Regions from separate parts of the Homo sapiens genome. Here region 2 is linked to region 1. The links come from fine-mapping of genetic effects on gene expression. A gene starts in region 1. The other region holds a variant in brackets. All regions are shown on one strand. Distances are from middle to middle. Region 1 holds the start of DPYSL4 (dihydropyrimidinase like 4). Region 2 overlaps JAKMIP3 (Janus kinase and microtubule interacting protein 3).

Region 1 (15,310 bases):
CACCTCTGCCTCCTCCATGGGAGATTCTGTTTCATGTTCCCAAGAGACCAGAGGACCATTTGAGGGAGACACAGCAGAGGCCACCGGCCCCTGAGAGAGGATGACGCTGCCACGAACCCGTTCTATTGCTTTGTTCAAAGAGGAACCTTCTGTCCCAAGTGCCCCAGCCACCCTCTGAGCACAGAAGGGAGAGGGGAGAAAGGAAAAGCCCCACCCCAAACCATCCCTACTCCCACATCGCACTTGGAGGAGCACAGGAGGTCGGGGCTTTGCCCTGCCTCCAGCTCCTGTCAGGCTGGGTGAGGCACCCCGAGGGCCAGGCTGGGCCAGTGCGCTGTCCAAGGTGCTGGGCCCCACCTCTGGGTGCCTTCCTAGAACAGTGGGAGCTGGGCTGGTTTCCCGAGTGCCCCACAAGACTTGAAAGGGGCCATCCTGCCCCCTGCACACAGCCATCATGCTGCTGCCCCACCAACCACACACCCAAGGCCCGAACACTGCTCACTGGCCTCTCCTGGTGCAGCCAGACACAGCTCCAAGCCAGGTGGTCGGACAGGAGGGCGCACCCGCCAGGGATGCCTTCCTCCAGCACAGCCCTCCCTCGGGCCCCTACTCATCCCAACAAGATGAAGTGGGCACCCAGCCTCCCTGCAGCCACCCACAGTGCCAGCCTGGGCCTGCAGGCCGAGGAAGACAGAGGCAGGATAGAGGCCAGCCTCGTGTCTGTGGTGTTTCTCTGTCTTCGCGGGGACCCACAGCTGGCCGGGTGCCTTGGCACTGGCACGAGGCAGGTGGTCTCGACTGTGCAGACGTCCTGACCGGCTTGGGCCGCCCCCTGAAGGGCGCGAGCAGTGGCCAGTCTCCTCAGACTGCAAGATGGGCTGCTGCTGGTGTTTTCTCCCTTTGTGGCTGAGTAAACCAAACCAAGCTGTGATTTGGTAATGGCTAAATGTCCCGCGAGGTGTTTCAGGGTCCTCAGAGCTGCCCTCCCCGGTGTGCCAGGGACACAAAGCAACTGACGTGCATTAACTCACACATGCCTCAGAAGCTCATGAGGCCAGTGTTCTGTTTTACAGATCAACAAAGTGTGACTTATAAAAGCCAGCTGAGTTTATCTGGAGTCACACAGCTAGAAAACCATACAACCAGGTTCAGCTAGGCTCCTCAGACCCGTTCTCAACCACAGCAGCGATGTCTGTGCCAGACGGACGCCGCAGAGTGAATGGCACCCAAGGCCACACAGTGCAGTCAAGGTCTAGGCTCTGAGGCCTCGTCCTGCCTCCTGAGCTCACCACGTGCTCGTGGTGGGCAGGCGGACTCCACTCACCCACCTGTTAAACTAGGCTTAGCTGAGCCCAGCTGGGCTGAGCTCAGAGGGTTTTAGGAGGAGAGCATGTGAGCCGATGGGTGTCAGGATAGAGCCCGTGCCGGGCACGCAGCCAGCACTACAGAAATAGCAACTCGGGTTATTTTTTGATGGGATAATAATGAGCATTGCTTTTATCTTTTTCTAAAAATACAGTCTCCATCCTTAACTCTTCTTGACATGAGCAAGAACCTTCCAGATATGAAGCTTCCGAGGCATGTGGCTCAAGGTCAAACATGTATCTGGCATTTCAGACAGCATGACCCCTCCCCTCGCCCAAGGCATTTGAGTTTTCCAACCCCCAACTCCGAGCTGGCTACTAGTGCCCAGGGAAGAACAAGTGGACACACGTCAGTCACTGATTTCCAGTCCTGGAAATCCCAGGAGCATTCCAGCACTGGCCACACAGAAACACCCAGAGTGAGACACAGGGATTAGAAAAGCACTCCAGGTTCTCAGACAGATGCAATAAAGGCAGACAGCTGAGAAAGGCACCTTTAGGCGACACTCCTCCTCCCACACACACCTGGCCAGAGAGAGGGGCAGCAGACGCTGGCTGCCCCCTGTAGAGGAGGAGACCCAGACACTCACAGATCATGGTGGTTCCTCCTGCTAGCGCTGCCTTGGTGCCCTGACAGAAGTCGTCAGCCGGTGTCATGCCCAGGACAGGCATCTGCAGCCTTGTGTGGACGTCAACGCCACCAGGAAGGACCATCAGGCCGTGGGCGTCAATGGTCTTGATGCCCCCAGGGACGATGAGGTTTTCTCCGATTTGTCTGAAAGCAGCAGAGATTTCACTGGTTACAGGGAGCCCAGGTCAGAGCCCAGATGGGCTCCCAGCAATGCAGCAGAGCTAAAGGGTTTGCATGAGCTCCAGACCCCGAGGAAAAGGCCAGCACGGCCGGCCACTCACTGGACTAGCTCCTCGGGAGTGCCAGGGAGCAAAGCATCACTCAGCGCAGCTCAGGACGGTCACTGCAGGGTCCAGCCTCACGCAGACGCCACGCCCTGTGGTTTTCCACTCAGGTCCCTGGTTGGTACTTTTTTGACTAGAGGACGGAGCAGCTTGACAAACGGAAGCAGGTGCGCTAATAGATGTGGGCACCAGTATTTAGGAAGCACCTGCTATGAGCCAGGCACCATACTAAGTGCTGCGATGAACAAAGAAACGTGGAAGCTGGTGTCCTGCTTTCGCCCACAGCCACCCAACATACCTCTGCCCTCACCAAAGGCCGGGGCTCTGACAGTGGCCACCAGCTTACTGCTGCCAAGGATGGGTTTAGAAAAGAAGAAACCTCTCCCATGGATTTCACCCAAAAGTCAATGCCTGGATACCACGTGACCAGTGTGTACACAAGAGCTGGGAACTATTTTCACCTGCCTGGATACCACGTGACCAGCGTGTACACACGAGCTGGGAACATACTTTCACCTGCCTGGATACCACGTGACCAGCGTGTACACACGAGCTGGGAACATACTTTCACCTGCCTGGATACCATGTGACCAGCGTGTACACACGAGCTGGGAACTATGTTCATCTGCCTGGATACCACATGACCAGCGTGTACACACGAGCTGGGAACATACTTTCAACTGCCTGGATACCACGTGACCAGTGTGTACACACGAGCTGGGAACTATTTGCACCTGCCTGGATACCACGTGACCAGTGTGTACACAAGAGGTGGGAACATACTTTCACCTGCCTGGATACCACGTGACCAGCGTGTACACACGAGCTGGGAACATACTTTCACCTGCCTGGATACCACGTGACCAGCGTGTACACACGAGCTGGGAACATACTTTCACCTGCCTGGATACCACGTGACCAGCGTGTACACACGAGCTGGGAACATACTTTAACCTGCCTGGATACCATGTGACCAGCGTGTACACACGAGCTGGGAACTATGTTCATCTGCCTGGATACCACATGACCAGCGTGTACACACGAGCTGGGAACATACTTTCATCTGCCTGGATACCACATGACCAGCGTGTACACACGAGCTGGGAACTATTTGCACCTGCCTGGATACCACGTGACCAGTGTGTACACAAGAGGTGGGAACATACTTTCAACTGCCTGGATACCACGTGGCCAGTGTGTACACAAGAGGTGGGAACATACTTTCAACTGCCTGGATACCACGTGGCCAGCGTGTACACACGAGCTGGGAACTATTTGCACCTGCCTGGATACCACGTGACCAGTGTGTACACAAGAGCTGGGAACATACTTTCAACTGCCTGGATACCACGTGACCAGTGTGTACACAAGAGGTGGGAACATACTTTCAACTGCCTGGATACCACGTGGCCAGCGTGTACACACGAGCTGGGAACTATTTGCACCTGCCTGGATACCATGTGACCAGCGTGTACACACGAGCTGGGAACATACTTTCAACTGCCTGGATACCACGTGGCCAGCGTGTACACACGAGCTGGGAACATACTTTCACCTGCCTGGATACCACGTGACCAGCGTGTACACACGAGCTGGGAACATACTTTCAACTGCCTGGATACCACGTGACCAGCGTGTACACACGAGCTGGGAACGTATTTTCATTTTCGGCGGAAACTTACTTTATCAAGCCATCTTCCACGTGCACATCAGCGTAAAAGGACTGGTCGTCATTCACGATCCTCCCACCTCTGATCAGAAGGCGGTCACTCTATCGGGAACAACAAAGGGTAATTTTTCTCCAAACTGAGTTACTCAGTAACACTCTTGGTGCAACTCCTTCCTCTGAAATTATGACTGAAACATTCAGGCAAAATTTCTAGACGTAAAAACGAGCACAAAAGCCTGCAGCGGCTTACTATTCCCCAAGAAGTGGCACCAGGCGCTCAAAAACAGTTGCCCCTGGAAGTGCCACGCACGCCCCACAGCTGCTGCTCAGACCTCGCTGAGGGCAAAGCCCGTGTTGGTGAAAGTGTGGTAGTGCCACAGGTCATATTTATATCTTCTGATTTACCACTGGATTGAGGAGCCCCAGCCTGAGGTGGGAGGCGAACGCTGCCTCATGGCCTCCTGTGCAGCCTCAGAGATCCTGCTCTCCTCCACCCTGTCTTCCACCCACGCAGAGGAGGCTGGGAGCGGACGGAGCTGGACTTTGGTTCCACCCAAACACTACAGACCAGTGATGGTGCCAGGAGGCGGAGGCAGACAGCGCCCCCACAGGCATGGTCCCCACCCCAGGAGGCTGCCTCCCACTGAGGGGAGACCAACGGCAGCAAAAACACACGTGCACAGATCATCACAGTCGGTGACGAATGCGCAGAGCACAGTGAGGGCGCCATGGCAGGGCCATGAGAGAGGGGCTGGGAGAAGGACCTCTGGGGCCAGGGTGGCTGATACAGGGGCAAGGCAGACATGGCGAGCGTTCCAGCCAGGAAGCAGCCTGGCCTTGGGGCAGGAAAGGGCTTGAGCTGCCATCAGCAGACCTGGGAGGAGGCCGAGGGATGGAACCTTCTGGTGGGGTGGTGGTGCCAGAGGCAAGTCGGTGCCCAGAGCTTGGCAGGGGCAGGATATGTAGGCCTGGGGACTCCATGGCTGCCCCCTGACTGGGGGCCTTAAGCAGGTTTCAATCCTGGTTTGATGTTTTAAAGAGATCACCTTTGGCTGCTGTGTTAGAAAGTAGCTTGTGACAGGTAACAGTGGGAGCCGGATCATTGCTGGGGTGATTTCTGAGTGAGATGAGGGGCTCTGGGACAGGACTATGGGAAGGGACGGGAGGAGAGTGGATTCCAGAGAGGCTGGGAGTCAGGAGGGCAGGACTTGCTGACCAAGAGGCCATGGGGGTGATGGGGAAGAGATGGGGTGACCTCGGTTCCAGTGCAGCTCGGACGCACTCCCAGTGGGACACAGAGCGTCAGGCTGGTGAGGCCCGCTCTTTGTAGGTCAGCCCTGGCAGCACAGAGCTGTGGCGTTAGACAGGGATTGACTCCAGTGCTTGGCAGTCATAAATCCACTTCTAAGAATCCTACCAGATGGCCGGGAAGCAGAAGATTAGGCAGAAAGTAGGGTGTCACTGATGGGACTCTGCATGACCGTCAGAGGTGAAGATCTGACCTCATTGGAGAATGGGGGAGAGAAACACAAAAAAGGAGTGAAAGGAGGTGGAGAAGGACGCGCCCACGGGCTGGACTCGGCAACGCTTTTCCCTCCACCGTCTGGCGTGCGCCTCAGCACGCCCTGCAACTGACCCGGCAGGACTGACCGTCTGCATTTAACAGGGAGGTCCGGCCGCCTGCTCTGGGTTTCCAGGGCCCACCCATAGGTGGCCAGGGCCCTAGCCTGGGGCTAGAGCCTTCACGCACCGTCAGTCTGAAGCCAAGAGCATTAAACTGAAGTGCACAATTGGTAAAACTCTCAGAATGAGAAGGAGTTCATTATCTAGGAACTCCATTACAGGATTCACTGCTGACATCTAACTGTGGGGCTGTATTTTCAGGATCCCAGTGACTTGTCAACCTCTACCCCATAGTCTACAAACGGTTGGCAGACTATGCCACAGGCCAGACCCAACCCTCTACCTCTCTTCATACAGCCCTAGGCTAAGAATCGTTCTTGTATATTCACTGAAAACAATAACAAGAGTATGTCATGACTCAAAAATTCTATGAAGTTCACACTGCAGCATCCACAGATGAAGTTTTGTTGGAACACAGTGGTGCCCATCGACTTCCTAAATGTCCAGGACTGCTTTCCTGGCAGGGCCAAGCAGCTGAGACAGGAACAGCGTGGTCCGCAAAGCTGACAACATTTACTCTCGGGCTGGTTGTGGAAGAAGTTTTAGACCCTTGGTCTACAGAGCTGTCTGTTCCCAGCCGCTGCACCTCTCCTCCTCCTGCCCAGTCCCAGCTGAGCGCCAGGCTCAGCCCTGACCCGGCACCACCATGCATTTGCAGAGCCTCTGTGGCCGCATCAGGCCCTGGCTGCCTTCCCGGTGCTGTCCCTCTTCTTCACTTTCCACCCCTCCCAGGGGACCCACGCATTTTCAAGGAAGCCCTAGAAAACGCAACCGGGCAGAAGGAGGCTTGAGGAGACGTGTGGTCTGGGCTCTCTGCTCATAGGCGCCCAAGTGTTCAGGCACCCGCACTGAGACTGGGTTTGGAACCCAGAGGAGACGCAGCTGGGGTGTGGGGCTGTGCTCTTCTTACTGCACTCATCCGGATGGAGGTGAAAGTTCCCGGGAAGCAGCTGCCCCTCCGCACTGACATGGTTGCCTGACCTCCCCTGGGAAGGGGTCCTCCTGCCACCCCCAAACTCGACCCCCACATGCCAGCTGACTGGCAAGACCTCCTGCATCAAGACCAGACCCAGCCGGGCAGAACCCTCTGGAGGCAGCAGCCCCTCCCATCTGGAGAGGGGAGGGCTCCTTCCTCGCTCAGAGTCTGGGGGAGTGGAGCCCACAGCCCACGGCTCGAGCTAATGCCAGAGGTCAGACCCCACGGCCCTCCCGCCGAGGCCAAGTCCAGAGTCGGGTCTGGGACCCCATGGACTCCCCCGCCCAGGTCCTGCCGGGTCCCGAAGCCTCCTTCCTCCCACCCCCATCTCCCCCCGCCCGAGCGGGGAGGCTTTGTTTCTGGCAGAGCGGGACCTCCCGCGCCGGTGCGTGTGGGTGTTGGGGAGGGGTCTCTGCTCTCGAAGGTTCAGGGGCTGCCAGGGTTCCCGGCCAGTGGCCCTTGACCGCTCGCTTTCCTTGGAGTCGCTGAACCCAGGTTACTGGAAGGGTTCGGGGCCACCAGGGACTCCGGCCAGAGCGGCCGGGGCTAAATCGCTTTGTCTCGGACAAAGAGCTCCCGACGCAGCGCCAGTGCGTCCAAGGGGCGGGCGACCCACGGGCTGCGCCGGGAACGGCATCTCCCCGCGCCCCGGACCAGCCCGGGCCAACAAAGGGCCGCGTCCGCCCGCCTCGCCACCCGACCGCCGTGGGAGAAAGGAGCCGCTAGCGCTCCGAGGGACAGGCCGCCCGGCCCCGGGTTCTCCCCGGGCGCAGCCGAGGCTCCCGGAAGCCGGCAAGGCCGGGCAAGGCCGGGCAGGGCCCGGCAGGGCCCGGCAGGGCCGGGCAGGGCCGGGCCGGGCCGGGCCTGGGCGCCCCGCTCCTTAAGGGGGTCTGCGCGGCGCTAGCGGGGACTCTCGGACCCTGGGGCGCGAAGGAGCCGAGCAGGGAAGGGCGGGCGCCAGGACAGGGACCAGACGCAAAGGCAGGGACCCCCCACCCACGCACAAGACCAGGAGGGTCCGCCCGGCGTCCAGGCCCCACTCCGGGCGGCGGGCAGGGGGCGCCGGGCGAAGCGGGACCGGGCTCACCGTGATCCGGGGGATGCTTTTCTTGCCCTGGAAGGACATCCTGCTCCTGGGGGTCTCTGGTAGGGGCGGCACAAGCGGGGGCGGGCGGGCGGGCGGGCGGGCGGGGGGACGCGTGAGCCGGGACGCGTGCGTGGGGACGGCGGGAGACAGACTGCGAGCGCGCGGGGCCGCACGGCTCCGTTCCGGTCCCGCCCCCGCTGGGCCCCGCCCCCACCCCGGCTCCGCCCCCGGCAGGCCCCGCCCCCGATAGGGCCCGCCCCAGCCCGAGCCCCGCCTCACCCCGCCCATCAGCCCCGCCCCCGCCCTCAGCCACTCCTTCGCTTTAAAGCCCCCCCAGCGCTGGAACCGCTGCAGGGTCTGATCTCTGCACCCCGGGCCCCCGCGCAGACCCGCGGACGAGCGCTGGGTGGGGATTTCAACCTGCTCCAGCTGATGTGCGCGGGGTTTGCACCCCGGGGAGGCGAGGGAGAGAGTCCGGCCACGTCCTGCCAGGCCCCGCCCGCGCCCCCGCTGCCCTCCAGCGCGGAACCCAGGTCCCAGGAGACGCGAGGCGCCCAAGGCCCCGGGATTCCGAGCCAGTCAACCCCGGGCCGCGACGCTCTGGGAACCACACCCGTCCAGGAAGGCACCTTGGCCAAAGCCGGCTCCTTCGCAGATGACCCGGGCCAGGGTCCGAGCGCCAGGCTGTGACCCCGCGAGGCTGTTCCACGCTGGCCGCGAGAGACGGAGGGCAGGAGGGGCCCGAATAGGACAGAGAGAGAGAGAGAGAGAGACAGAAGGAGGCGCACGCGCTCCCCAGGGACCGGGACGCGGTGGTGGGCGGGACCTCGCGGGGGTGGGGGGTGGTCGCAGGACCCAGAAGGCTCAGGACCTTTACGGATAGGGAGGACCCCGCAGGGGGGAGCGGGGGAGCCCCACGCCCGGCGTCCTCCGGGTGCGAGGGTCTCGGGGAGTCCGAGCCCGGGCCCACGGCCTCTGTCCCGCGGCCACTACCTGCTGGGGGTCCCGGGCCTGGGCCACGCCGGGCTGCCCTCGGGGACTTGCTGCGGCCGTTGAGGGGTCTCCGCGCGCCGCGCAGACTCGCCTCCCAACCCGAGGGCCCGGGCGGCCGCCGCCCAGAGCGTCCAGCGGCAGCGTCTTGCTCTCGAAGGCGTCCTCCACGCAGCGGAACACGCAGCCAAGCTTGGGCCGGGCCAGAGGCCTCGCGGGCTCCTGAGGCTGCCGCGCGGTCACGGCAGGAGCGGGCGACAGAATCCGGTCTCGGAGCCTCCTGTAGCGAGGTCTGCGCGGCAGGTGCACTGGGCGGACCTGGAGGCCGCGCCCTCCCCCCCCGCCTCCTGCCGCCCGGCAGCGCTGCGCGGAGCTGGCTCTGTCCACGTAGCGGGTGCTGAACGCCCCATTCTGGCCCCTGGGTGCTCGCTTAGTCCCGGCCACGCGTGGCTGCTCGCCCTCGGGACACACTGGGCGCTGGGAAGGCCGGGCGGGGAGCGCGCACCGGAGAAACCGCTGTGGGAATCCCGGCCACATTTCCAGGCCCCTTGGGCCGTCCCACGCCAGACAAGAAAGCCCTGACTCCGAAACCCTGGGCGAGTGTGGAGGGCGCGCGGGGGTGGGGTGTACCCGCCCACGCAAACTGCTGCTGATCTCCCTTAAAGCCGAGTTAGAGGCTTGGGGCGAGACAGGAGTGACGGGCGATGCTGTCACTCCATCTGTCATTCTACCCAGCCTGCAGCAGCTGAATTCGAACCCAGAGACTTCAGGCCTTTGCGTTGTTACCGCAGTCCGCATTTCAAAGCCAGAGTTTGGCCACTGAGTCACCATGACCTCGAGTACTGGCGGGGCCCGAGCCAGCAGAGCTAGGTCCAGCAGCTTCCCACCCCTTCGTCCTCCTCTGGGCTCCCCCTCCCCTAAATGATTAATGCAATGTCTGTTACTCACCTGTGTGGGACCGTCCACGGCAAATATCACCAACTGTTCTTATGCACGTGCAGAAGTTCCGTCCCTTTCCTAACTGTCTGATCTCTTCCATGGTTCACATTTGACCAACAGCCACAGGAGGGAGCCTCCCAGGTGGTCGACCGGAGCCAGGTGCTGCCAGGCACCCGACTGCAGAGCTTGCCCTCCAGGTGATCTCGCAGGTGAGAACTGGGGCTTTCCTCCACAGTGGGCGGAAGGCGCGGACTCCGTTTCTGGTGTGCAGAGGCACTGTTCAGAGAATGAACTCAGAAGTGCAGAAATGGCTCATACGGCTTTCAGTTCAAACTTTAATACCTTTGAGGGGACTTTAATCGTCTAAGATTTAAAACATTTTTTATTAAAACTGTACAATAATTTACAAACGAGTAAAAAATTCTCTGGTATATATCATAGGAATCACAATACAAAAATATTTGTAAAATCTTGTAGATCACCATACAAACCTATTTTAGGCCTGTGAATACTGCTTAGCATGGAACGGAATGTCACGTGGTTAGAGGGTGACTATGAAGGGAGTGCCTGGGAGAATACACACACTACCTGGCATGCCGCCGTAAGAAAACAGGCCCGGTTAGTTTTTGCATAAATTTACAATAAAGCTTTTTAAAAAATATACAGTAAACAAATATATGATTTGATACCTATATTCACAATATGAGTTTCCTGAGGCTAAACTGAATTCCATTACTGTGATAAAACACACACTCTCTCTCAGGGTTTCAAGGATGGGATGACGGTGAGTTGGCGAATGCGTCAGTGCCTCCAAACCCACACTTGGGCACTCTCTTCTTTTTGACTTCTAGTATCGGTGTTCACAAGCCCTGTAAGGCACTCGGGGTATCCTGAAGGCTACAGATTCTGCAAGGGCAGAGACTTTAAGGAACAGCCATAGTCCTTCTCCAGCTCAAAATCTGGACCATGGGCACAAGGTAAACAACACACTGGTGTCAACAAAGGAATCTGCTATTTATGTGGATTTTTACTTTAGACAAACTAAAGTATCTATGTTGTTCTGTGTGTTGAACACAGAGTGTGATGATGTTAATATAATGTAAATGTTGATGTAACAGTACATTTCTGGCAACATTTCAGGGTCCTTCCTCTTGCCTTATTAGGGGGTGATGCATTCATACAGACTTCCCCTGTTAGAAGAGCTAGCAGTAAGACAGCCCAAGTACTTGGAGGAAATTCACTCTAGCCCATTGGTTTGGAAAAGAAGGTATAGCCTGCAATTTAGAAATGCACCTTATTTTTAAATACTTGAATTCTGCTGCTGCTCACTGGACCAGGAGGAGTCAGTGATAAATGCTCATATTTACCTTTTTGGGGGCAAAAACCCAGTTCTGAAATGCTGGGTATTGTAATCAGATGTAAAGAAGGTGCCTATGATAGACGAGTGAAAACAATGATATCTAAGGAGAGGAACTGACGCTCCAACTAGATGTGTGCTTTCAGGAATGGGGCAGAGACGCGATGCAGTTTGGATGTTATTCAGCACATTCCTTGCACCTTCTCCCGTTCCTATATACATACTTTTTACATATAAACAATTACAACTTCATAAGGATTTGGTACATATTTACATGCTTCTCTTTGCCGTATAGTTTGCCTTATTATTATTACAGAACTGTGATTAAGAGTGTCTGTGGTGGATAGAGGTGTATGAAGTGCTCCAGACATATATACAACATGCTAAACCATGATGACCCAAATAAACATGAGGGATGTGAATCTGGGAATGTGAGTTTCACTGCACATCTTTAGATCCGAAACAGCTGGCCCATGCAGCTGTTGTTCCCATGCAGGTACACATTGGGACCATGCCAGGAGCTCTCCCAGAGGAGGAGGCCAGGCTGGCAGGGAGCCAGGTAGAGTTACAACATATTTCTGGATGCCTGCATCGTAGAGTCCATCGGACTTCAACCCAGCGGTTCACCCACAGCGCCACGGTAGCTTTTATTAACACAAGGCTATTGTGTGCCATTCAGTTGTGAGTATAATAAATGTGCCAAGAAGATGCAGTCGTTAAAATGAGACAAAACTATGCACAGAGGACTAAACAGGATTTCAGACTCGAGACGCAAACCCCGAGGTCAGGCTCAGCTAGAGACACTGAACTGGCCCAGTATCTTGCCGAGTAAATCAGGAACTGTGGCTTGAATGACAACAGAAATGGATGGGTCTTTCTTGGACAAGTGCTGATTAATAGTGCATTTTCCAGCAAAAATCCTGCAGCCACCAAAGAAAAAGCATATCTGTCTGATACTATTAGCTTTTCCCTGATTTCAACCTAGGGAGCCATGCCTGGTCCGCAGCCACCGTGTCATCTGCCCCAAAGTCAGACATTTCTTCTGACACAAATATAAAATGAGCCTAATACTTCCAGACAACCCAGTCCTCCCTACGGCAGCTGAGTCGTGTCTTTTATACAATGCTGCCAGTAACAGTCACACCTGGCTGCACAGCTGGCTGCCTCAACTTCTAGGTGCCTCGAAATGGCTAAATCCCACGAATGGCTCTTCTGGTTGCGTGAAAACATGCATAAACGCATGCTTGTGCACACAAGTGAGCACACACACACACCTCCTGTCAATTCAGCTCTGAGAGCAGAACCTTAGCCCACCTAGGGTGGGAGGACACAGAAGTTCCATCTGCAGCCAGTCAGGCTCCATCCACAGGCTGGACGAAGCTCCCGGGCTGCGTCCCGGGTCTCCCAGCAGGAATGGAAATCACACCTAACGTTGCCTTCACCAATGCACTGCTTCCTCTCTGAAAAAGAGTGGAGAAAACGCCGTTTAGTGCGACGACCTGGGGAATGTGTGTGACCCACCACAGGTCAGCACTCAAGGCAGTTGGGGCCTTGACCAGGCACTGGCTCTGCACAGGATGGTCACTGAGCCAATGGCAGGCACTGCCCTCATGGGTCCAGCACCAGCTACAGCGCCACGTCCTGAGCCTCCAGCCCGGGAGACGCACCTGGCACCCACCGAAGGCCACACTCTCAGGAAGATGAGTCCATGCTCCTCACAAAGCCCCTACAGAAGTGACCTTGGATCTTTCTCACCATGTCTGGGCCAGCAGCCCGGTTTCTACCCAACTTCCCTCATTGCTTAGAAAGTGGGCCTCTGCTAAGTTCAAAGTTTTTATTACCTTTCCATTTTTTCATGTTTTTGAAGAAGTTATGAAGGATCTGCTTTTCACAAGGGCGGGCCCCGGATCAGTCCCTGGGGCATGGCAGCATCGGGTGGGAGGCCACGTGGGCTGAGGGGCGGGAGCGAGGGCACGCTGGGACAGAGGCAGAGGGGCGGGAGTGAGGGCACGCTGGGACAGAGGCAGAGGGCCCGGCCGTAGAGACACCACGGTTTTCTAATCTAGGAGAGGTCTGAAGAGCTTTTTGGTTTTTGATTTAACCTAACTTCTAAGTAAGAAGATATTACCTCAAACAGAATGAAAAATAAATGTAGTCAAATGACACATACATGTTTACTTCTTCCCGTATTAAGCGTTACAGTTGAAATCTCTGCTGCAGTTAACATAGTACCTTGTTCTTTGTGCCTTTAATCGGGTTCGTTTCTAAATAGGTTGTCCCGGAACCATCGATCTCTAGAAGGTACAGGAGGAAGGGGACCTGCCAGTCCAGCCCTCATATTTTACAGAGGGAAAAGGTGAAGCCCCATGTAAAACAGGGATTTCCCTCGGTGACACTTCCAGGCTGAGAAGGGCCGGGGATCTGGACACCTACCCAGAAACACTCCCACCCTGTCAATGCCTCTCTGAATTATGTGATCAACTGCCTGGAGTATGAACTAGGCACATGCAAATAGAGAACAGAGGTCTTGTTGAAAATATGATGCTGAATTTTAAAAACTCACTCCCCAAATTAAAGGAACAAGACCAGAGCATTTGGTTTCCTGTGGTCACTTGATCCCTCTCCAGAGCCAGCTGCTGCTCTCCATTGTCAGCACACTCCACTCACTGCCCTATTTCCAGAACAGGAGACTTTCTGCCCCATCCATGGCCGCAACATACCACTCACACACACACACTACATGTGCACGTACACACAATGCACAATACACATACCTGCACATGTGCAAACAGCACATACACACTGCACATGCATGTACACACAATACACTACACACACATGCCCACACAATACGCACAAATGCACTGTACATGTGTACACACAATGCAAAATACACATACAGGCACATGCAATGCACAACACATACACATACATGCACATGCCCAAAGACACCACTCACACACAGCACACACATGCACACGATATATACACACATGCATACACAACACACCACTCACAGCACATGCATACGCGCACACACACACACGCACACACACGCACACACGCGCGCGCACGCACGCACACACGCACACACACGCACACACACGCGCACACACACACGCACGCACACACACGCGCGCGCACACACACGCACACACGCACACGCACACGCACACACGCACGCACACACGCACACACACGCACACACACACGCGCACGCACACACACACGCGCACGCACACACACACGCACACACACGCATGCACGCACGCACACACACACACACACACACAGTTCTGCTTCCAGGTTTGCAGTCTTCCCAAATCCCTCCCGCCCTACCCCATCTGTTCCGTCTCTTCTAGGGAACGTGATCTTCTCCCTCCCACCCACCCTCCCCTTTCTGGGCACTGTCCCTCACAGTCAGCTGAGGACCTCATCCAAACTGGAGCCATGTCAGGCACAGGACAGGTGGGAGGCAGCCATCCATGGGTCTGGCCTTGGTCTCTGTGGCTCCATGGGGCTCCTCAATGCCCCCAAGCAAGCTCTGGCACCCCAGGGTCCTCACTCAAGAGTGTCTCTGTGGACAGGCCTGAGGCTGCTAGCTGCAGAAGTGCCTGCTTGCAACGGTGGCCATTGGCTGGCGTCTGGGAACTTGGCTTCGAAGCATTCCTTTAGTGAGGAGGTTCCTGCCTAGACTGTGCAAACAATGTGATTCATGGCAAACACCAGCCTTCCTTTTGAGGGCCTGGCATGTTAGTGGGTGGGGGGCGCACAACTGAGTAGCCCCCAAATCAAAACCATGAATTTTGGGTCTTAGCTGGAATTTCCCGAGCAGAAACACTGCATATATGGGGCTGTGTTTTGCTGCTGGAGGGAGTGTGTGCCCCGTGTGCACCTCACAGGGGGAAGAGCATGGGAGGGGAGAGAGCACAGGAAGTCTGCTCACAGGCCTCTCCAGGCTGTGCCTGTGAACTCTTCCCTTGCAGATCCAGCCATGCCTCCCGATTATAGGGCTGCGATAATGGTGTGGCTGTGCCATGGTGTGGCTGTTGTGGTGTGACCCTGCCGTGGCGTGACCCTGCTGTGGTGCGACCCTGCCGTGGTGTGGCCCTGCTGTGGTGTGACTGTGTGCTGAGTCCTGTGAATCCTAGCGAGTCCCCAGAGATGCAGGTGGTCTCGGGGACCCCCAGAACATCTGCTTTCACTGTTGCCTGGAAGTGTGGGGGGTGGGGGGAACATGGGGCTGCGAATTGCCTTCAGGGAGCGCATTCTTTTACGTACTTGGCCATTCACGTGGCAAATGTTTATGTGAGTGTATCAGTGCCACAGT
Region 2 (15,310 bases), 41 kb after region 1:
GGGCTAGGGGTGGGACTAGGAGCAGGTAGTGGGCTGGGTGGCCCCAGAAGGGGGTCAGGGTAAGTTGAACAGAGAACGCTGCCTGCAGACTCACCATACCTTCCCGCCTTTGGGAGGAAACGCAGACAGGGTTGGTGACAGAGCAAAGTGGAGCCGAATCTGTCCTTTGCAAAGATGCACAGTGGGTGCTGTCTGACCTGAGTGTGTCAGATCTCCCAGGGCAGACGGGGCTTAGTGGACCCCCCAAACCCGGCCCTGCAGGCCCTCCTCCCGAGATCACCACCTCTGAGCTGAGCAGGGCAGGAGACCCCAGGAGCCCGGCCCTCTCCCGACTGTCCACACAGCTGCTGTTACCTTTTCGGCCAAGGTCAGGACTGTCCTGGCTTGTATGACAACCACCTGCTCCTCATTGGTCAGGTTCTGCACCCAAAAGCAGAACACAGGTGCGGTCAGAAGCAGTGCCTTTGGGGGTGAGGGTGAGTGATGGATGCATGGGGAAGCTGACTGGGGAGGCTGACTGGGGACGCCTGGGTGGGGGCCAGAGCTAAAAAGTGCTTTGACTGACATCTCCCTCCCAGCATCTCTGACACCCTTGACTTGAGCTTGTTCCCTCCGGGTGCTGCCGATTTTGTTTTCTCTCATTCTCCCTCTGCTGGTAATCACCAGGTCTAGGTAACCAGCTGAGGCAGATGCGTATGCGCTGCTCAATGCAGGCAGGCCACCAATACATCCCCAGCAGTGGCTGCTGCTCTGCCCAGCCTCTGTCCCCTTCTGTGTTTAAAGCCAGCCTCTGCATATGCACCTGTGGTTATTAAAACACCACTTGGGAACAGTGGAGGAGAGACCACATGTTCATGGCTGTGAAATGGCTGAATCCCTGGAAGGTTTTGTCTCTTTTATGCATGTTTTATTCATGCTTCCTCCCCAACCGAGGGGCCCCTGGGTGGCCCTTCTGGGTAGAGTGATTATGGCTTTCGATGTGGGCACCTCACACTCTCAGACTCTGCTGCAGCCTGCATCCAGACCAGGGCTGCCTGACTCCAGCTCGTGGGGCCTCTCTGATTCTTGCCAGCTCACTCCAAAAGCCCTGTCCATGCCATTCTCTCCCTAGAGTGCAAGCTCCCTAACAGCAGGCATCTCTTGCTGTCCCCCAACCCCAAAGTCTGCACAGGGTCTCCCACAGGGGGGAGTCAGGCTCAGTCTGTAGTCCATGGTGGGGGCCAGCTGCACTCCTGACTCAGGCAAGAACCTCATCCTGCATGGCTGGGGCCAGGTGCCCTCATCTCTCCTGCCCTGCTCCCTTCTCCCATGGCAGGGCTGGGCAGGCCACAGACCTCTCCCAACACTTTAAGTTGGGGAGGCTGAGCAGGTGGCTTCAGGGTGACTGAGGGAATCTACCCAGATGTGATTAAACCACAAGTTGCATGTGAAGTCAACACTGATTGCACAGCCAGGCTTGAAGGGCCACTGTCAGCCCACTGTCAAGAGCTCCCCAGCATCTCCACAGGTCCCCTGAGCTTAAGCCTGGCCATGAGCCCTCCAGTATCCAACCTCCTCTGTCCCTGGGCTCTGTGACAATGGCCTCAGAGGCTGCATGATGACTGCAGGGCTGTCACACTCAGTGGCACTCTTGGTGGACAGCTATGGGGCTGGGCAGGAACCCTGAAATAGGCCTGGGTGGGGCTGGGTACCCCCAACTCTGCCACTACATCAGCTCTGTGACCCTGGGCAGTGCCTTTGGGGACTCAGCTTCTCCAACTGTGAATCAGAGTTGCCCAATACAGTTCCCAAGACCTCATGATGGGGCTGATACCCAGGACTGGACCCCAGAGATGTCAGGTCCACGGCCACCCTGCTGTGGCTCTTCGGCCACCTATGACCACAGTGGAGCCCCCAGCTCTGAGAGAAGCAGACCCACACCCAGAGCCTCCCTGCTGAAAGTACCCCTGCCCTGTGCCTCACTGCTCCCCAGGGGCTGGGCAGGCAAGGGGAGAAGGGAGTCCTCGGATGCAGAGCACTGGATGGAGGAAGTGGAAGGTCAATGAAGGTAGGATGAGGGATGGATAGATGGATGGATGGAGGGAGGGGATGTGGATAGGTGGAAGGATAAAGGATGAAGGATGGAAAGATGGATAAATAGCTTATGGAGGATGGATGAATGAATGAATGATGGAGGATGCATAGATAAATTATGGAGGGTGGATGGATTGATGGATTTTGGAGAATGGATGAATGAATGGAGGATGAAGGAAGGATGGATGGAGAATGAATAGATGGATTATGGAGGATGAATGGGAGATGGATGGATGGGTGAAAGGTTAATGGGTAGAGGATGGTAGATGGAGAAGGAATGGATGGAGGATGGTGGATAGAGGACAGATGGAGGATGGAGAATGAATGGATTAGGGATGATGGATGATAGATAGATGGAGGATGGATGGACAGATTGTGGATGATGGATAAATGGATGGATTAAGGATGATGGATGAAGGATAGATGAAGGATGAAGGATGGATAGATGGATTATGGAGGACGGATAAATGAATTGTGGAGGACAGATAGATGGATTATGGAGGATGGATAAATGAATTGTGGAGGACGGATACATGGATTATGGAGGACGGATACATGGATTATGGAGGACGGATAGATGGATTATGGAGGACGGATAGATGGATTATGGAGGACGGATAAATGAATTGTGGAGGATGGATACATGGATTATGGAGGATGGATGGATGGATTACACAGGATAGATAGATGGATGGATATAAGACAGAGCATGAATGAAGGGCTAGGTAGATGGTGCATTGATGGGGAATAAATGGATGGAGAGCAGAGGATTAGTAATGGGCGGATGAAAATTGGGATGAAGAGGTGCATTATTTTGCCCACTCAGTAATTAACATTCTTTCAAGGAGTTTGCTATAGAAATTGGAACTCTGCCCCAAATGAAATTTAGGAGTTATCTATAGAGTCTGCTTTTCCCCCAAGCCAAGGAAGTGGAACCCCTAAGGGTCTTGGTTTGTCTAAGAGCAACAGCCCCCTATCCTCATGGCAAGTATGGAAGGGCTGAGAGATCCCAGAAGCTGGGCAATGTGATGGGAAGTGCCATCAGCTGGAAGAACCAGGTGTGCACAGCAGAGGCCCCAGTGGGCCCTGGAGCAGTGTGAGGAAGGCTCCGATTCTGAGCAGGCTCTGGGCCTAGTGGAGGGTCTCAGGCAGGGTGGCCCATGGCAGGGCTGTGGGAGGCTGGCAGGGCCTCCTGGACCCCAGAGGGGCTGGGCTGGGGGTTGTGGGTGTAAGAGGCATGCACAAGCCAGGAGAGCGACATACACTTACGGCGTTATCGCCCAGGATGTCCAGCTTCTTCATCAGCTCCGCAACCACAATGTCCTAAGGCACAGAGGACAGGTAGGGGTGAGTGGCCACGGGGTGGGCAGAGGGGGTGGGGAAGGACAGGGCAGGGAAGGGCGGAGGGGAGGTGGTGGGGGTGGGGGAGGGGGAGGGGAGGGGCAGGGGTGAGGTAGGGCAGGGTGGGGGCAGGGGTGAGGTAGGGCGGGGTGGGGGCAGGGGTGAGGTAGGGTGGGGTGGGGGCAGGGGTGAGGTAGGGCGGGGTGGGGGCAGGGGTGAGGTGGGGCAGGGGTGAGGTGGGGGGGTAGGGGTAGGGTGGGGGCAGGGAGGGGGTGAGGTGGGGCAGGGAGGGGGTGGGGCGGGGGTGGAGAGGGTGGGGCGGGGGCGGAGGGGGTGGGGCGGGGGCGGAGGGGGGTGGGGCGGGGGCGGAGGGGGGTGGGGCGGGGGCGGAGAGGGGGTGGGGCGGGGGATGGGTGAGGTGGGGGCGGAGTGGGCAGGAGGGGCGGGACTCACCGTCACACCTTCGGCCTCGCAGTACACCTGGAGGGGGCTCTTCCCGTCCACGAAGGGCGTGTGGTGGAAGCTGATGGCGGGTGACTTCCTCTCCCTCTCCTAGGACAGAGGGACAGAAGGGTGAGCCGCTCCCCTCCCATCCCTTCCCTCTAAGAGGACTGTGCTGGGGCCTGAGGAACACGGGCCAAGACCATGGAACCAGGGATCAACACAGCATTTATGAAAACCAAACCGCAGCGGCAGCAGTGGTGGCAGAATCTGCACTGGACCTGGACCTGCCCACAAGGACTGCCCCTGTATATTCGCTGACCCCAGATGTGCCGGGCAGAGTTCATCACACTCTGGCCACGTGGCCTGGGCAGTCCCACCCTGAGCCCACGGGCACATCCCTCAGTGAATCCCAGGGGCTATGGGGAGGATCAGGGGAGGGGCTGCAGGTTGCATCCCCTTCAGGTCTGACCAGAGGAGCCTCTGGAGAACACAGGCTGGCAGTGCTGCCACTGTCCCCACAGGCAGGCCCACGTGGCCGAGGTCGTCCACACATGGAGTGACCACACAGCTGCCCTGTCCTCCGGCAGTGGACGGGCAGACTCTTAAGAGGCGGCTCCAGCTGGACTGTGAGGCTCCAGGTGCTGGCCTGAGACGGAGGCCTCGGGGCTGTGTGTGGTGCTCGGCAGGGGCGGCCCCTGTGTGGGCCACTTCCTCCCAGCCCCACAGGTGGACCACCCTTGCCGTGAAACAATCACAGCGACGTGGCTGCCCACACCCAGCCTGAGCTGCCCGTGGGATTCCCCTCCTCCCTCCTCCTGTGCAGGTCATGGCAGAGGACACAGGGCCAGGGATGGCAGGGCACAGGCAAAGGGCTCCCAGTCACCGCGTGGCCCCCACTGTCCTCACTCAGGGGCAAGAAACAAACGTCTGCCGACGGCGGAGGCCTGGACAGAGCCCCACACCAGCTGCAGCAGGGCCACGGGGGCGGATGGAGGACGGGCGGATGGAGGACGGACGTGCCGGCTCCTTGGGGGTGGATGGAGGACGGGCGGATGGAGGACGGGCAGATGGAGGACGGACGTGCCAGCTCCTCACCCCACAGGTCTGGAGCAGATGCTGCACTGTCACCCGTCGTGCTTTTGTTTTGTTTTCCCTGCATGACACTGAGCGCCACGGGCCATTTCCCCCATATTTACACGTGCTTTGGGCGGCTGGCCTCATCCTTCGTATGAAGAGGTGGTCCCTGCCTGACACTGAGCTCCATGGCCCATGTTCCCCATTGGATGTTTGGACGGCCGGTATGAAGAGGTGGCGGTTTACGGCCATTTGCCTCTTTCCTCCCTGACGCAGCCTTTTGGGTTCATGTTCATGTTCATGTTCATGTTCAGGGCTTTGTGTGGGTTAGGAAGGCTGAGGACTAGATCCCTGACACAGCCACAGGCCACAGTGCTGGCCATCCACTCAGCTACCTCAAGCTCCAGGATCCTGAACTCCAGCAGCTCGTTTTGGTCTCTGGCGTCCTGCACCTCGTGTCTGAGCCGAGCCTCTTCCGTCTCCATTTGTTTGATCTGCAACATAAAAGATGCATGAGGTGAGGGGTCTGGTTCTCTCTCACCAGAGGTCTTGGGAGGTCAACTCCAGGCTGACGGGACAGCTGCTGGCTGCCGGGGAGGCCGGCTGGCCTGGTACCCAGCCCTGGAAGCGCCTCACAGCCCTCGGTATGTTTGGGTTTGTCCTAGTGAGATAGCCTAGCCATCCGGTGGTGGGTGGGGCTGGGCAGGCAGCACCGCATACCACAAGCCAGGAGCCTGGCGATCATATCGGGGCCCTGAGCTTGGGTGGCCCCTGGACAGGGATGTGGAAGGGAGGCCGTCAAGGATAAACGTCTCCAGCAGGGGCTGTACATCACAAGCCAGGAGCACGGGGGCCTTAGCGGGGCTCTGAGCTAGGATGAGGAAGGGAGGCCGTGGAGGGTAAATGTCCCAGGTGGCTCCCGGGTGCCCCTTGGAGCCCAGGCTGTGCCCAATGGAAGGAGCGGGTACCACGGCTGCCTGGCCACCGGAATTCACTTGGCTAATTAAGGAGCTGTTTAAACGGAACCAGTTACGAGTAAACCGGATGCAGGAGTCCCCCACCCCTTCCAAAGGGTCAAGTGACACGGCCCACGGCATGTGTCCTCAGCAGCCTCATGAGGGCAGGGGCCACCAGGGGCAGACAGCTGTGTCCATCCCCTGAAGCTGAGCTCCAGGGACTGAGGGACCTGCTCTGATGCTCAGGGGACCAAGATAAACTCAGAAGCATTGCATCCTTGGAGTGAGCCGGCTCAGTGGGAGCTGGACCCCCTTGCAGGGCCAGCTGTGTACTGCTGCACAGTGGGCCTGCCGTGGAACACCTGCAGGGCCAGGAATGTGATCTGCACCCAGTGTAGCCAGAAAAAAGCATGGCTCCAAGTGTGCACATGCGCATGTGTGTACGTGCACAAGCATTTCCATGTGCGTGCCAGCATCTCTGTGTGCATGTCTTCAAGTGTACATGCCAGCATTTACGTGTGTGCGTGTTCAAGTGTGCACGCAGGCATTTACGTGTGTGCGTGTTCAAGTGGGTGCCCTTAAGTGCACGTGGATCTCTGCCTGTGCCGGCATTTACGTGGCACACACAGCACTGTGCTGAGCCCTGTGGAAACGCACTTCTAATTTAAGAGATGTTCCGTGTGTCCACGGGAAACATGGGGGTGTCGTTCGCCATTCAAGATGCAAACCAAGCCTAAAGCAGGACCCCCAGAGGGCACGACCAGCCCTGGGCTGGCAGCAGTGCAGAGTCTGCATTGGACGCCTCTGTTTGTCTGAAGCTCTGTCCTGTTGGCACAGATCAGACTCATCAGCCAGGCTACCCTAGCTTCTCCCCAGAGGGCCGCACCTGCCAGCGTGAGACATCGCTGCCTCCTCAGGACACCTGTCCCTGCCCATGGACAAGTGGGGTGGGGGTCACACAGAGCACCCCTCACCTGTGCGTGGTAATGACAGCCCTGCTGGCCTTCCTGCCCCTGGACCCGTAGCCAGCCCCGCCCCTGCCTCATGCCACATCACCTGCTCCCACAGTTGTGAGGTGCACCCCTCTTGGGATGGCCCTGGACTGCCCAGACCTAAGTCTAGGGCCCTCGGTGCTGTGACTCCCTCTTTAACCCAGTGCAGGGAGCAGCTGAGCCAGGTGGGCCTGATGTGGTGGGAGGTGCCGAGAGAAACCTGCACTCCCTTCCCTGCACCTCAGGCAGAAGCTAAGGCCACTGAGAGCAGCCTGGCCACACATCGCATGTTCTGATCTGTTTTACGTCTGATAGTCTTCCAGACCACAAAGCCCGGGCCAGGGTGGGGGTGGGGGTGGGGGTGGGGGCGGGGCAGCACTTCAGGAGCCTCTTGTCATCTGGGACCAAGAGAGCCTGGACCTGGGCCTGCCAGGTGACGCCTTGCCGAAGTCTCAAACACGCACTTGCTCAGCCAGGCTGGTCCATGGGCTCTTCCCCGAGGACTTCAGCTTCCCCACAAGCGTTGCTGGAAGGAGACTTCCCTGACCCAGCCAGGCTTCCCAGGGGGATGATTCTAGTGGTCTCAATAAAGCTCCTCTGTCACGATGCTCTAACCAGCCCACCCACAGAACCATCAGCACAACGGGACACGAATGGAGATGCTGCTGCAGATAGGGGCCTGCCCGGACCCAGGAGAACAGGACCCAGGAGAACAGGCCCCAGCTCCCTCTGTCCAGGCCATCCTCCTCCCCAGGGCTCCTGATGGGGTCCCGCAGGAGGGAGCAGAGCAGAAGGGGCCTGGGACAGCCATTCAGAAGCCTCAGCCCTCGCTCCATCCTTCAGCCCCGCAGGGACCACTGCAACCCCCAGGAGCATAGAGCGAGTCCTGCCAGGGCCTCCAGGGGTTCGGGGCTCACCTTTTCCACAAGCTCTTGATTTCTCCGGTACAGTGCCTGCTTCTCTTCAATCCACTTCATATCCTTGCAAATGGAATTGAAAGAAATAAAGACACTGAGGGAGGAACTCATAAACCAACGTTTAAATCGTGATGTGGCAGAACACCAAAGACCAGTCTGGCCAGCGTGGCAAAGCCCCGTCTCTACAAAAAATACAAAAATTAGCCGGGCGTGGTGGCACATGCCTGTGGTCCCAGCTACTCAGGAGGCTGAGGTGGGAGGATGGCTTGAGCCCAGGAGGTCAAGGCTGTAGAAAGTTATGATCGCACCACTGAAGCTTGTCTTTAGGTACAGCCAAATACCTCCCACCCACGTGTGCCCCCACGCCCGTGCAGATGGCTGCAGGCTCACCTGCCCCTGCTCCGCCAGGGCCTTCTCCAGGTCCTCTATCCGCGCCTGTGCCCTCTGCACTTCGGCTTGTAGCTGCTCACGGGTCTGTAGGACGGGAGGAAAGATACATCAAATTTTCTCTAAAAGCTGGGACAGACAGCACACACACTCGTG[G/A]GACGTCAGAAGGGTCTGTCTTTTGGTTCAGTTCATTGAGAAGTGACTGTTCGCCCTTCCTTTGGAAGAGATGCTTTCTAAGAGAGGGAGAACTGTTTTGTTTTTTTTTGAGACAGGGTTTGGCTCTGTCATCCAGACTGGAGCTCAGTGGCACAATCTTGGCTCACTGTAACCTCCGCCTCCCGAGCTCAAGTGATCCTCCCACCTCACCATCCTGAGTAACTGGGACCACAGGTATGCACCACCACACCCCACTAATTTTTGTATTTTTTGTAGAGACGGGGTTTCACCATGTTGCCCAGGCTGGTATCAAACTCCTGAGTTCGAGCAACCCACTTGCCTCAGCCTCCCAAAGTGCTGGGATTACAGGAGTGAGCCACTGCGCCCAGCCCTGGAGGGAGAACTTTAAGGCTTATTTGAAGCAAGAGATCTCACTTAGATTCTAAGGGGAAATCCTGCAGGTTGATTTTGAGAGCCTGTTAGGAGAAATCTTTGTTTACAGGATGACACAGCCAATGAGGATGACTGAGGCCTAGCGTGTGCTCAGCCCTGCCAGGTGCCGGCCAGAGGGCTTTGTTCGAGGGACTCTCCACATGGACCCGCTGGAAGCCCCGGGTGGTGCCGCTGCCTGTACTGGAGCTGCCCCTCTGGAAGCCCCGGGTGGTGTGGCTGCCTGTGCGGGAGCTGCCTCAGCCCAGGGCTCACTGCCTTCCTGAATTCTGTGTTCCTTAACTGACTCCCAGAGCCCGCCCCACATCTACAGGAAAAGCCCTGGCGCTTCCCCCGTCCGCATCCTGGTTTGTGAAGTCCCTCCCGAGTGCCACCGAGGCTTCTAGCCGAGGTCTGAGCCACCTCCCTTAATTCACTTTGCTGTGGTGGCTCCGAACCATGGGGCCACAGTGGCTCCTGCTCTCTCTGGGGATAGCTTCCAAGGGAGAGGTGCGTTTCGGGACAGGACGCAGGGTCAGAGGATCCATCAGCCGGGGTGGGGGGTGGGCGAAGGCGTGACCTGTGGTGCCCGCCCCCGAGTGCTTGGTCCCAGCTCCCTGCCCCCAGGCCGTCCTGGGCTCCTCCCATCACCCCAGCCTCTTCCCTCCCTTAAGGGGTCACAATCGTGGATGTGAGCCCTTGGGTTGGAGAATGCTTAGCAGAGAGGGAATTCCAGTTAGTCCTAACCCTGTTTCCGGACAGGGAAACGGAGCCCACAGAGGGCTGTGGGCCCCCTGCAGCCTCAGGACCGTGGCAGGGATGGGCCCACGTCCATGTCTTCAGACGCCTGTCCTCTCCTGCCCCCTTCCTTATCCTGAGGCTTCCTCGATTTCCACAGTGAGGAGTGACATTTCCAATTATAATACAGAATCAGACTGTGGGATGCCGGCTAGTCTATTTTCTTCATTAATCTTTTCTGTATCTTCTAGTTTTTAAAATAACCATGCAGCACTTCTCGGCATCAGATTTTCCTCTGATTCTAAATGACATTAAACTTTTTTTTACATGCAGTTTGGACATTTTTACTCTCTAAGCAAAGCTTCTGAGTTCTTTGCTTCCATGTGGCCCCCGAGCAAATGTTTCTCTGGCACCCGACAGGAAAAAGGGAAGACAGGATGCTTTCTCCAGCTCCTCCAGCTCCTGGCGAGCTTGGCCAGGAGGATGCGGCTGTTGCCCCGCCCCCGCTGTGAGGGAGAAAGGCTGGGCCCATGAGGCTCTGGGATGTCTCGGGGCTGCTGTGCTTTATGATGCTCTGAACCGAGGCCTTGACTTTTTCCTTTCTCCAAGGGTCATGCAAAAATTAAGTCAAAGTGAAAGAGGCGATATTTAAAGTCCCCAGTTACGGAGACAAATCTCTCCGAGCCTGAGGAGGGGACGCCCCCTCCAAGGCCAGCCCCCCCCACCCCGACTCAGGACAGGAGGAGGGCACAGAGGGGTGGAGCTCTCTCTTAGTTTTCACAACAGACGTCCCCAATGAGGTGCCAGGAAGGCAGGAGGGAAACCAGCCACGTCACCAGGGCGGTCTGGGTGGACAGAGGATGAGGCTGGCGGCTCCCTGGGGCACTAGCGTGGACCACGCTGGGGATGCTCTGTGGACACTCTCCCCTCGCCCCAAGAGGTCCGTCCCCCACCCAGCTCAGCCACCCTAAGTTGCAGAATTGCCAGACACTGGCATCTCTGGCCCTGCAGGGTGGTTTTGGGGTGGGGAGGCCAACGGGAACCCCACACCCCACAGCTGCCTGCTCTGGAGAACCCCTCAGCTCCCCCGGAAAGCAGCCCGTCTCGCTGTGAGGGGTACCAGGTGCAGGTCCTCCAGCGGCTTCCCCTCCGAGCCTCAGTAAGGGAGGGTGGGGCGGCAAGAGGACCCCCGACCCATGGCCCACGCTCTCCCCACGAGGCCTGGTGCCTGCACTGCCCTCCACGGCCCGCAGAGGGCACCCGCCAGCCACACTGAGGCCTTTCCTGGGGGACGACGCTAAGGTGAGCCAGGGAAGTGGGCGGAGGGACACGGCTGCTGGGGTGCTGCCCAGTGGGGAGGCCGGGGGAGAGGGGCCGGGGCCGGGGCCGGGGCAGGCACAGCCTGTGTGAGCTCAGCCTTTGAGGATGAATGACCTCCACAAGTTTCAACACCGAGCTCGATGCTGCCACGGGCCATCGCCATGCTGCCAAGAGTGGAAGAGGTGGTCTGGAAGGAGGCCCACCCTGGGCGCTGTGGGCCCCTGCCACCACTACCACCCCGCCTCCCCCAGGACCCTTACTCACACCTGTGCCTGGCACCGCTCTGGGCCAGTCCCTCCCACCTGGGCCAACTCCCAGCACCGGGATCCCCAATCCCTGGTTTTGATCGGCTTCCATGGGCACCACCAGGACTGCAGGCAAGGGCAGGAGAGGAGGGGCCCGGGCCCAGGAGGGCTAGTGAGGGGGGTGTCCCAGCCCAGGCCACGGGGTCAAGCGGGAAGGCACGAGGGGGGCCGGAACGCGCGGTGGAAGTCACGTAGACCTTAACTTCTCGCTCTGCGTCCAGCGTCCCTCCAACCTGCTCCTGCAACAAAGCGTAGGCACGCTGCAGGGCCTGGTACTCCATGGTCAGCTGCCGGAACCTCAGCTCCGTCTCCTCCTTGGCCATGCCCTGGAGAGACACGGATGCCACACACGCACAGAGACACAGTGTCAGTAGCCAGCACCTCCTCCGATGGCGGGGCCCCGGGGCTTCCCTTCTCCCCAGATATCAAATGGTGTATGGGGGGGTCTCTCTAGCAGCATGAGGGAGGGGACCTGCTCCAGTGTGCAGGGAGGGGCGGCTGCCTGGGGACTCAGTGCTGTTTGGAGAAAGGTTTCCCTGGGGAGGGGAGCACCGAGCCCTGGGGTGGGAGCTGAGTCGGCTGCACGGCTGAGGACAGGGTGAGCCTGCTGGGCTGGTGGCCATGGCCAGGGGCTCAGCTGGGGCTCCTGCTTGCTAGCCAGGCTGCCCTGACCCAGCAGACCCTCTGTTACCAACCAGGCCTGCACACGCTCTGCTCTGCTGAAACACGTCCTGGGAAGAAAGCTGGGCTTTGTGAAGGGGGTAAAGTACCCCAGGCAGCACGTCTCCTCCCAGGTGCACTCTTGCAGGCTCACCCTGCTAGCTGCAGTGCCCCCCGTCACCCCAGGGAGAAGACAGGTGAGCCTGCTGCTGCCTTCAAAGGGTCCCGGTGGACCCCCGGGGCTGGAAGGGTTGGCCACGTCTAGGAGTGACTGAGCCCAGAAGCCTTGGCCTGGCCCAGTTCCCCTGCCCAACCCTGCACCTGAGGCTGTGAGAGGATGTCTTAGATCCCTCAACAGGTCTATGGCCATTGGGCCACCCTCCAGGGTCTGCCACGGGAGGCCCAATCCTTGGCTGTGCCATTGACTGCAGACCCCACTCCTTGTCCCACAGCCACAGGGTCTGGGTCCCACAACACCAAGCCCCGACCTGGTGCTGAAATGGCTGCCTGCGCCTGAGGGTAGCCGTCCTTCTGGAAGAAGGGGCTGGTGGGCAGACACACCTGTGCTGTTATCAGAAAGAAAACTCCTGCTCAACACCCCTCACCCTAATGTGCTCTTGGCACTGAGACCAAACTCCCTGATGAGTGGTTCAGACCCTCCTGGGGAGGCCCCTTAGGAAGGGAGAGCTCACCGTACCCCTATGCAGAAGGGGCGTAGGCTCAGTGGCAGAAGGAGGCATGGTTTGGCCTTCATGGGAGCAAGAGCGGGCCTCAGCCCACACCCCAAGCCATGTCATGGGAGCTTCTCACCGTGCCCGAGTCAGCTATCAGCGGGTCAGTGCCAGTGAGGGCCGCGAAGGGCTTCCCCGTGAAAAGCCGGCAGCCCATGCCCAGCCAAGCCCAGGACCCGGCAGGAGACCCTCGTTACCTCCTCCAAGCCCAGGACCCGGCAGGAGACCCTCGTTACCTCCTCCAAGCCCAGGACCCGGCAGGAGACCCTCGTTACCTCCTCCAAGTCATCGTCCGGGGTGCACGGGGTCTGGTCCGTCCTGTCTGTTTGGTAAGAGACGGAGGAGCCGTCGGATTCCAGGGAAGCCTCTTCGTCGTATCCAAAGAAGGTCTCCACAACCACCGGCTTGTGACCAAAATGCGACGTGTCAGTTCAAACCAGACCCAGGCACAGCCGCCTCCTCCCGCCGCCTCCTCCCGCTGCCCAACGGTGGGGGCCGCAGCCCCACCCTGCGACACACTCCCATCTCTGTCCCTGGCACAGGCCGAGGAGGTGGCCTGGGTGTGAGGGGCGCTCTATGGCAAGGCTGGCAGGGCGGGTGGGGAAGGGGCCTGGAGTCCCGTGGGTGAGCGGGTCCTGGCCCTGCCCTTGGTGGTGGGGAATGAGGCCCTTCGTGGGGCACCGTCCCTGCGGTTCCCTGAGGGTGGTACCCGGGTTAACAGAACCGACGATGGGTGCCTTCCCTGTGTGATCTCATTCCCAGTGATGCATTTCTGTTCCATTTTTTAAAGTTTCAGTCCTTGACTGATTGGAATACAAACAAAAACGGGGTCCTCCGCCAGCTGGTGTGAGAGGCCCTGCCTTTGGGGACCCTCCAGGTTCACCCCGACGTCTGCATCTTTAGGGCCCCCTCACCCCTGCCTTCAAGAATCGAAGAGGGACTCATCTGGGTCCCCTTCAGAAGTGTTACAAAATGGAAAGCCCGCCATCTTCTTCAGTCCCTTCTGCCGTGGCCACAGTGGCCTCCAGGTCTCCTCCCAGTTCTTCTGCCAGAACCTTCCAGCAAAACTCCCTCAGGGACCCCAGGGCCACCCGACTTCCCCTACTCCCCGCCAACCACTGGCCCCTGTCCTGTGTGCCTCCCCACACCCTGTGTCCTCCCTTCACAGGGCCAAGGCGTCTGCTGGACACTTCCAAATCCCAGAGGGGTCCCGAGCGGGGAGAGCCTGGACAGCTCCTCCTCTCCACCTTTCAGAGGGCAAGTGTTTGTGACCGAGGAGCATCTCACAGTCTAACAGCGAGAAAACACTGCTGACAGCTTACAAGCCACACACACACTCACACTCACACATACACACTCACATACTCTCACACACACTCACACATACACACATGCAGACACATATACACTCACATGTACACACAAACACACACACACACTCACACATACACACTCACATACTCATACACTCACATACTCACACACGTACAGACGCATATACACTCACATGTACACACATACAAACACACACACATACACATACACACTCACACACATACACAGATGCATATACACTCACATGTACACACATACACACACACACATACACACACAGATGCATATACACTCACATGTACACACATACACACACACACTCATACACACACATACACAGACACATACACACATGTACATACACACTCATACTCACATACACATGCACACACACACAGATGCATACACACACATGTACACACATACACGCACTCACACACACATACACATACACACACACACACACACACTCAACATAAAGCAGGAGATGAGTTAGGTCCTTTGGCAGCTGCTCCAAAGCCTCCCTTAATAAAAATCATAGGTTTATCACAAAGGATTCTACTGTAGAGAAATGATGACAGGTGTTCACATTTCCTGGGGACGTGGGTCTGCCCTGTGGGGCCTGTGGATGAGGCTGCCACAGCCTGCAAGTGTGGCCGAGGACGGTGAACGGCAGGACAGGCGAGCGTGGGGTGTGTGGCACAGCCAGGATGGGTGAGTGTGAGCAGCCTCAGCCGCCCGTCCTCAGAGCCGTGCATCCCACAGGTCGTGGGGACTCGGACCCTACACAGGCAGTGAGGACACCAGAGCCGGCACCTCTTCATTGCTAGTGTTGCTGGTATGGTTGTTACCAATTCCTATCTTCTCTTGGAAATTTGAAAGAAACAAGTTTATTAAAAATGATAAACAGAATATTTTCTTTGGGTCCTATTTTGGTCATTTCACAGTAACAATTTTTAGAAATAATAAAATTGTTTTTTCATCTCCAAAGACTGATTCCTACTAAGCACACGCCAGCACGCTCTCCACACACACCAGCGCTCTCCACACACGCGGGCGCGGTCCTCGGCACACACACCCAGCGCCCTCCACATACACCGGCGCACCCCTCTCCGCACACACCCGGCGTACTCTCCACACACGCGGGCGCGGTCCTCTCCACACGCACCCGGCATACTCTCCACACACGTGGGCGCGGTCCTCGGCACACACACCCAGCGCCCTCCACGTACACCGGCGCACCCCTCTCCGCACACACCAGCGCTCTCCACACACGCGGGCGTGGTCCTCTCCGCACACACCCGGCGTACTCTCCGCACGTGCCGGTGTGCTGTTCCTTACCTTGGGAAGTTTTGCCATTTTCTTTCTTTGCTTCCGGAATCTTAACAGCTTGTCCCGCTCCTGCGGAAGCCAGTTGAAGAGGTTGTGTAAGTGGTAGAGCAGCTCCACCGG

What was found.
Region 2: its variant is fine-mapped to the expression of DPYSL4 in whole blood (INTERVAL, PIP above 0.99).

Annotation. Positions count from the first base shown.
Region 1 is chr10:132,179,487-132,194,796 of GRCh38, reverse strand. It overlaps DPYSL4 (dihydropyrimidinase like 4), which reads right to left and starts at 7,849. Exons shown (of 14, transcript NM_006426.3): 1 at 7,695-7,849; 2 at 3,962-4,050; 3 at 1,955-2,139. The coding sequence starts at 7,733. JAKMIP3 (Janus kinase and microtubule interacting protein 3) reads right to left here. Exons shown (of 24, transcript NM_001323087.2): 24 at 9,939-12,440. It overlaps JAKMIP3-AS1 (JAKMIP3 antisense RNA 1), which reads left to right and starts at 8,045. Exons shown (of 4, transcript NR_184044.1): 1 at 8,045-9,832; 2 at 10,475-10,600; 3 at 13,253-13,336. RefSeq lists an enhancer at 6,629-7,130.
Region 2 is chr10:132,138,068-132,153,377 of GRCh38, reverse strand. JAKMIP3 (Janus kinase and microtubule interacting protein 3) reads right to left here. Exons shown (of 24, transcript NM_001323087.2): 9 at 15,200-15,259; 10 at 12,799-12,927; 11 at 11,330-11,458; 12 at 8,188-8,271; 13 at 7,798-7,860; 14 at 5,328-5,426; 15 at 3,868-3,966; 16 at 3,337-3,396; 17 at 355-420. Among named protein-coding and RNA genes, the nearest start is that of JAKMIP3-AS1, 41 kb to the left of the region's middle. RefSeq lists enhancers at 5,088-6,050, 6,472-6,971, 6,972-7,473, 10,036-10,882, 10,883-11,730 and 1 more. The variant G/A (reference allele first, on the strand shown) is at 8,341.